2 linked regions of the Homo sapiens genome follow. The protein of the gene in region 1 purifies or fractionates together with the protein of each later gene. This does not show direct contact. Each region holds a gene or a part of one and is shown in the gene's direction. Other genes may lie near its edges.

Region 1 (3,910 bases):
TGCACTAAGAAAAGCAGTTTGTAGAGCAGTTGAGAGGACAGGCTCAAGTCTGTCTGGGTTTAAATCCTGACTTCACCATTTCCTAGCTGAATGACTAGGGATAAGTTACTTAAATACTTCATGTCTCAGTTTCCCCACTTGTAAAATTGGGATCATTATACTATTTGTAAATATTATACAAGTTCACACATGTAAAGTGCTCAACATTTTTGCCTAGCACATAATAAGTATTATTACTTATTTTTTTATTAAGCGATAAATTTTTTAATAAAGCTATTAAACAAATACATGTTTTTAGTAAGGAAGGACATAGCACAAACAGGATTAATTAAAGAGAAGGCAAAGAAGACAAAGAGAATTCCACCAGATTCTGGTGCAAAACATTCAATAATTATTTTTTAAAGAACTGAAGGGTGGGAATGTCTGTTGGTGCAACCACTTTAGAAAACCTATGGCAGTGTTTACACAAGGAGAGCATTCTTATACACTACAACTCAGCAAGTCCACTCCTAAGTATACATCCAAGAGAAAAGTGTCTGTGAATCCAACCAAAAGATGTTTGATAGAGAGAATGTTCGTGACAGAGTAGTCATGATAGTCACCTGCACAAATGTCCATTGACAGAAGAATGAATAAGTAAGTGTGTCGGTGAAAATGGATGATACACAACTACACATAGCACAATGGATGAATCTCACAAACATAGTAATGAGCGAAAGAAGCCAGACACCAACATTCCAGGCAAAAAGATCCTATGCTGCTACAAGCCAGAATAATGGTTACCCTGGGACAGTGGAGACGGGAGAAAAGATGTGGAGAGGAGAGAGCAGGAGGAGCTTCTAGGGCTGTGGCTAACATTTTATTCTTCATCTGGCGCTCGTTACATGGGTGGGTTGGATTGTGAAAATTCATTGAGGCATACACCTAAGATATGTGCATCTTTTCTGTGTTTGCATCCTACTTCACTAAAACAACCAGAAGAGAACGGGAATGAAGTAAGATCAGAAAATAAAGGAAGAAATAGAAAGAAAATGAAAGAAGGGAGAAGAAAAATAAACAAACCCAGAAGGCTGAAAGGCATGGAAGCCGCACCTGACCGGGTTGACTCACCCCTCTGCCCCAGGAGCCACCCCTGCCCTGCCCTGCCCGTCCCCAGCACCCTACTCTCCTTTTGCTTAGCCCAAGGATGGCAAATGCCCCTTTTGGTGGGGGTTCTGAGCATCACTAAGACAGGAAGGGCTTTCCAAGTGGGTAAGGCTGGTAGTGGAGTAACTCGGAGGAGCTGACGCTTTATTAAAGAAACAGAAGACTTGAGAGCCATCTCCTCTCTTCCTTCCCCTTCCCCTTTCCCCTTCCTCTTCCCCTTCCCCTTTCCCCTTCCTCTTCCCCTTCCCCTTTCCCCTTCCTCTTCCCCTTCCCCTTTCCCCTTCCTCTTCCCCTTCCCCTTTCCCCTTCCTCTTCCCCTTCCCCTTCTCCTCGACTCTTTCTGCCTTCGCCTCATTATCCGCCCCCAGGACATCCTCTTGGCCTTGGTGGCTTTGCCAGGACCAGCTCTGTCTCCGCCTCCTGCCCTGCGGGGTCTTGGGGCGGGGGGCCGTGGCCCGGCCCAGGCCCGAGCTGCCGGGGTGTCCCCGCCGCGTCCCCGCCCGGCTGACCCCGCCCTGCAGCCGCCGGCTATTTTGGGCGCGTTGGCGGCGGCGGGATCGCTGACAGTCGCGGATCCTGTGACACCTCCGGGCAGCCCGGCACTTGTTGCTCCCACGACCTGTTGTCATTCCCTTAACCCGGCTTTCCCCGTGGCCCCCCGCCTCCTCCCGGCTTCGCTCCTTTTCATGTGAGCATCTGGGACACTGATCTCTCAGACCCCGCTGCTCGGGCTGGAGAATAGATGGTTTTGTGAAAAATTAAACACCGCCCTGAAGAGGAGCCCCGCTGGGCAGCGGCAGGAGCGCAGAGTGCTGGCCCAGGTGCTGCAGAGGTGGCGCCTCCCCGGCCCGGGACGGTAGCCCCGGGCGCCAACGGCATGACAGACTCGGCGACAGCTAACGGGGACGACAGGGACCCCGAGATCGAGCTCTTTGTGAAGGTAGGTCGGGGTCCAGTCTCCCGCCGCACCTGCCGCGCCTCCCGCCGGGCTCACCCACCAGGGCTCGGGGTGCGCTGGACTCCGGACCCTCCCAGGAGGGCGGCGCGGAGCCCTGTGCTCCCCCGTGGCCTTTCCGCAGGCCAGCGCCCCGCTGCGAGGCTCCTGGGCGGAATGGAGGAAGGCAGGTTCCGGCAGGTGGCCGTCTTCTCGGAGAGTTGATCCGCAGTTTGTCCACCCCCGTCCCCGCCTCCGCTGTCACCGCTGCGAGTCCGAGTCCAGAGCCCAGCCCGGACGCGATTCAGGCTGGTCCTGAAAGACGTCTCCAGGTGTCGGGATGCGGCAGAAACCTGGCTGGACCCGTGAACCTTTCCTTTAAAACGGGAGGAGGGGGAGGAATGGGAGAGAAACGTTATTGACACAATGATCTTTGGCAAAGCGAAAATGACATTTCTTAAAATTCTCTTTCTCTCTTTCGCTCAGAGATCCTAAAATAAAAGCCAAGGAGACAAAAGTGTTTTCTTGCTTGGTGACTTGCAAAGCAGAAAACAAGCACTCCATTCTCCGACGTTATTATTTTTGTCATAATCATGATTTTTCAAGGCAGTATCAAGGAAATGTTAGGCGTTTGGTAGTAGGGAGAGCCTCCCGTTCAACCTGATGCAGACAGGGATGAAGGAGCACAGTGCAAATTAAATGAAGTCACCTTGCTCCTTGGACAGAAACTGCCTAATGTCAGAGCTGCTGTACTTTATTTGCAACCTGTAGGAGGAAGGATGGAGGCGAGGCTGCGGCGGCGTTTCCCGGTCCGCCGGTGTAAGGAGAAAGAAACATTTGATCAGCCCTTGGTGCCGACGCTGCAGAAGTAGGGAAACCTGAGGCTGCGGGAGAGTAGCCTCCAGGGCTGAGCAGAAACAGTCGCCAGGACTTGGGGGAGGGGAAGTCGGGGACTGCCTGGGCGCCAAGACCTTTCACAAAGGGGGAAAACTCTCTCAGTGCAAAGTTTCCCTAGAAATATGCAGATCGCTGAGAAGGGAAGAGTCACTGGTGCCTGTCAGGGGCCTCCTGGCAGAATTTAAAAGGCATAAATATTCCCTGGAATTGGGAAAATGTTATTTTGCCCAAAAGATCCTTCTCTACAAGCTAATTAAATAGATGTTTGCAAAAAGTATGAGATCTACATAAACCTTGATAACAATCTGTGGTCTTTGGTACTTTCTGACTCTTAAAATGTGACTTACTTTACACTTGGTACGTGATCTGTCTCCGTTGTCCCAGCCTACCACAAAGGTTTGTTAAATTTCTTCTGCTGGGTTTTACATTCTTTGTGTTTATTTTTCAAGCTTACACCTGACATTTAGTGACACTTGCTTTCTTCAGCCTGTTCTCTTCCCACTGTGGCCCCTGTGTGCTCCTTTGGTTTCTGGGACTCCCCCCACCCCCACCCCAGGCTGGATTTCCAGGTCCTTTGGCAGACCCAGGTAATAAAGGAGGTCATTTCTCGTCTGATGCTGGGTAGTGTTGGACCTTAGGGCAGCAAGGGGGTGTTCTGAACCCCAGCATCCAGGCCTGGGCCCTAGGGGTGAATAGGGAGAGCTTTAACAAAGCGATGAGTCTTGCTGCTCTCCTTGAAGAAAGCGATTCTAGGACTTACTCAGATTCCTTGAGAGTGGTAGTTTCAAGGTGTCAAGTTTCTGAAAGATATTTGAAACACAAATAGGTTCTTTAGAACCAAAGGAGCCCTTTGCCCCACTCCTAGGTGTGGAGACCGATTCTACCTGCACCTTTGGAATTTTCTTGTTGGCAGTGTTGGAGAGTCTCTCCATT
Region 2 (3,910 bases), on another chromosome or scaffold:
TTAGAGTAGTTTGCTGGCTAACTCACTGGGTCCTTTGGCCTACTGCAGATTCAGTTGCTACAACTCCGTCAGTGATTCCGTGTAGGGAGAAGTAATGGGTTGTCATTTTTGGAGTCAGGGTTGGGGGCCTGGGGTTTGAGAATCAGGTCAGAATTCATGGGTTGAGGTTTAGGGATTTGAGGTTGGGATTAGGAGGTTAGAAGATAAGCATCAAGGGCTCAGGATCTAGAGACCAGGTCTAGGATTAAAGGATTATAAATTTAGGGACTAGGGCTTGGGTTAGGATTGGAACTGAGTAGCAGAGGAGTTAAGATTAGAATAGGGGGTGGTGGTCAAGGGTCTAAACAAAAAGAGAAGAGATGCAAGGGTCTGCGGAGAGACTGGAAAAACTTTCCTCGTAAGTTCCCAAAGGTGACTGGGTATCAGGAAACTATTGGGAAGTGGCTTCTTATTGCTGCAGGGACAGAAGCCATGAGTTGGGGATAAACCTTCCAAGAGGGCAACACCTGTGTAGGCAGACACCGAAGTCAGTTAAATGTGCAAGTAAGTCTTTACATTGATGACAGTTATCGTTTATTTTCATTCTTCTCATTCTCAGTGATTTCCCTCAAAAAAAAAAAAAAAAACCCAAGAAACCAAAACACTTTTTTTTTTTTTAACCATCTTTATTCAACCTGTCACCAAGTTTCTGGTCACCTGCCACAGCTGACCCCCGATCCATTCTCCCTGTCCCCATCCTCTCCATACATCACAGTACACACCAGGAATACCCCCAGTTCTCATCTCCTCACCCTGGGCTGCGTCAATAGACTCCAGAGTAACCCAAACCACACCCTGCTGCCCAGATTCCTAATGACACGTGAAAGGCCGTTATGACTTGCTTTCCTCATGCCCTATGCACACCTGGGCTCCAGCCAAGGATCCTCCTTCATCAACCCCCATATTAGCTACGATCCTTCATGCTAATGTATCGCTCAGAGCTCAAAAGACTTTGAAGGGCCTGTGCCTTCGCTATCGAGCGCTTAAGTTCTTTGCCCTCCGCGTACTTTTGACAAATACTGGGCATCAACCATGTTCCAGGAACTACCCTGGGCAAAGAAAATAACTGGGCAAGGTTTCCATCGGTGTCTCTGCTGGCGGGCATCGCCCCCGCCGGGCCGCCACCCTGAACGAGCCCGTCCGGTCCTCTGGGTTCCGCCACCCTGCGTAGCGCTGCGCCAGCACCCGGCCCAGCACTCCCTCCCGCCGAGGGCGCCCAGGCCGGCTTCCGAGGGCGCCCAGGCCGGCTTCCGAGGGGCGGTTCCCACAAGCGAGTTCCGGCGCCCAGAACGGCTTCATCCTCTCGTCCCGTCCGCGGCAAATGCATGCGCCTGGAAAACCCGCCACCCTCCAGGGCAACTCACACCTCACCTCACGCCGCGGCGCAACCGGACTAGGACCCCGAGCAGGGCTGCCCAGGGAGCGCCTGAAGGACCCTGCGAGGGCCGCAGGCTATCCAGCGTGGCGCCTGGTGGCCGGGCCCTGTGCCGGAGGACAAGGTGAACCCGCAGCCGGACTTCTGCTGCACTGGGGCTCCGAATGACCCAGAATCTGGGGTGGGCTTAGGCCCCGGGTACGAGGGGTGAGGGCTGCGCGGTTGCAGGCCTAGAGAAGTAGGGGGCTGGGTCGAGAGTTGAGGCCGTGAGCCCGGGGGGCTGGAGGGCGTGGCCACGGGGGTAGGGGCGCAGGTCCCGGCCGCGCGTGGGTGGACCAGGGCTGGGCCGCCGCCCTCCAGGAAGCGAGTGGTGGCCCCCTCGAGTGCTGGGGTGGCAGTGTACCGACAGCTTTACTTTTTTTTTGTTTTGGAGACGGAGTCTGGTTCTGTCGCCAGGCTGGAGTGCAGTGGCGCGATCTCGGCTCACTGCAGCCTCCGCCTCCAGAGTTCAAGTAATGCTCCTGCCTCAGCCTCCCTAGTAGCTGTGACTGTAGGCGCGCGCCGTTATGCCTGGCTAATTTTTTTGTATTTTTAGTAGAGACGGGCTTTCACCATGTTGGCCAGGATGGTCTTGATCTCCTGACTTCGTGATCCGCCCGCCTCGGTCTTTCAAAGTGCTGGGATTACAGGCGTGAGACACCGCGCCCTGCCTAAAATTTTTAATTCTCATGGAGTCACCTTTAAGTCTAACAGGATTCTCGACTTGTCAGTTTGTTGTAAACCAAGAGTCAAGACAGCCACAACTTAGCTGCGTTAGTAAAGGAACCATGTCCTCCCTACAGGCCGCGTGTTCTTGCCACGAGAACCCCTAGCAGCCTGGCCTTGGAATGGCTGGATGAGGTGCATTCGTTGGTTCATTCAGATACTGTTAAGAGCCAGCTGTGTGCTAGGTACTGCTTACACCTTCTGGTGGTGAAGACGGAACTGAAGGGAACTTGCAAGGAGCTGTGAGAAAGTGTAACGGGAAGTGAGCTAAGATCACTAAGGTGGGCAGGAGGCAACCAGAGAAAGCACATTCAGGACTGCGAAAACTACTCACACAAAGGCTGTCAAGCCAGAAATTCTTTCAAAACTGAAAGGCCCATGAGGTTGGAGCTAGAGAAACTTAAGGAGTGTGGGGTTCCAGATGAGGCTAGAGAGGTACGTGGGGAACCACAAGATCATGCAGAGCCTGGGAGGCCGTGATAAGGATTTTGGTTTTTATTCTAAGAACAGGGTGCCCTTTAAAGGGTTAAGGAGGGGAACCATATGATTAGATTTTCATGTGTGGTTCACTTTGGCTGCTGTGTGGAGATTGTAGAGGTTGGCAGGACAGAAACTGGGAGACCAAAGAGGAGGCTGTCAAGATGTCCAGAGGGGAATGATGATGTCTTAGAGTTATGGTGGTAGCAGTTGAGGATGGGAGAATGGTATGGGTTTTGAGATATATTAGGTAGGGAAAATTGCCAGAAGTTGGTGATCGTGTGGATATGAAGAGTGAGGGAGGGGAGGTGTCATGGATGTCTCTGTAGACAGTTGCTGAAAATGACGTGTTACCACCTGTGGCATTAGGGAGAGTGGGTTAGCTGATCTTGTACTGGTTAGATTGGGTGTGGCTTTATGGTTTGAGTGGAAAATCAGGTTGAAAGCTGTAGAAAGGACATGAATAGGAGCGACCATGGCAGTTTCTTTGCTTGGGCCAGATTCTAATACCACCTTTAACATGATTGACAGTTTTTAGGATAAGATAAATGAGAATGTTGTCTAGACTCTGTCCCTGCCTATGTTAATGGAAGCCTTCTCTGTATTTGTCGACAAATGATTTTATATATATACACACATATATATTATATATATATACACACACACACATACACACATATGTAGTAGAGTCAGGGTCTTGCTTTGTTGCCCAGGTCAAACTCCTGGCCTCAAGTACTGATATTACAGGTGTGAGCCACTACACATGGCCAAATGAGAGATAATATTGAGATAAGATTTTGAGACAAAGTCTTTACTCCTGCAGAGGTGATAAATTTCTCACGTATAACTCGGATTTCACAATTGGAAAAGACCTCAAAATTCCCTTAGTCCAGTTTATAAAATGCTTTTATGTCCATTATATCATTTCTACAATATTGAGCTCTTACACCATGCTAGACATTAGGAATACAAAGATGAATAGAAATAAGACTATATAGGTTTATTTAGTAAATAAAATTGATCAAGCACCTTTGTGTCAGGCACTGTTTCAGATGCAAAATGGTTATGACTTGTTCCTGATGTTGGAGTTGTGTGTTGACCTCAGTGTTACCACTGAGGACAGCTGAGTGTATTAACAGGTTTGATTTGGGCACAGGAGATCCTGATCTCTCCATAATATTAGAATAGAGATGGTGTTTATCCAGCAGACTTTTTGGTATCCTGGTAGCACCTCAGTTGCTGTCCATCAATCTT

What was found.
Region 2: the proteins of CLIC5 (region 1) and NME6 purify together in Homo sapiens (affinity purification with mass spectrometry; one large-scale study listed by BioGRID and IntAct). This does not show direct contact.

What each region holds. Positions count from the first base shown.
Region 1 is NC_000006.12:46,013,656-46,017,565, reverse strand, and holds the start of CLIC5 (chloride intracellular channel protein 5), read left to right. Parts: upstream 1-1,705; 5' UTR 1,706-2,023; coding exon 2,024-2,086; intron 2,087-3,910. UniProt on the Homo sapiens protein: In the soluble state, catalyzes glutaredoxin-like thiol disulfide exchange reactions with reduced glutathione as electron donor. Can insert into membranes and form non-selective ion channels almost equally permeable to Na(+), K(+) and Cl(-).
Region 2 is NC_000003.12:48,298,981-48,302,890, reverse strand, and holds the start of NME6 (nucleoside diphosphate kinase 6), read left to right. Parts: upstream 1-1,523; 5' UTR 1,524-1,538; exon of another isoform or gene 1,539-1,578; coding exon of another isoform or gene 1,579-1,595; exon of another isoform or gene 1,596-1,621; intron 1,622-2,256; coding exon of another isoform or gene 2,257-2,364; intron 2,365-2,370; exon of another isoform or gene 2,371-2,460; intron 2,461-3,910. UniProt on the Homo sapiens protein: Major role in the synthesis of nucleoside triphosphates other than ATP. The ATP gamma phosphate is transferred to the NDP beta phosphate via a ping-pong mechanism, using a phosphorylated active-site intermediate. Inhibitor of p53-induced apoptosis.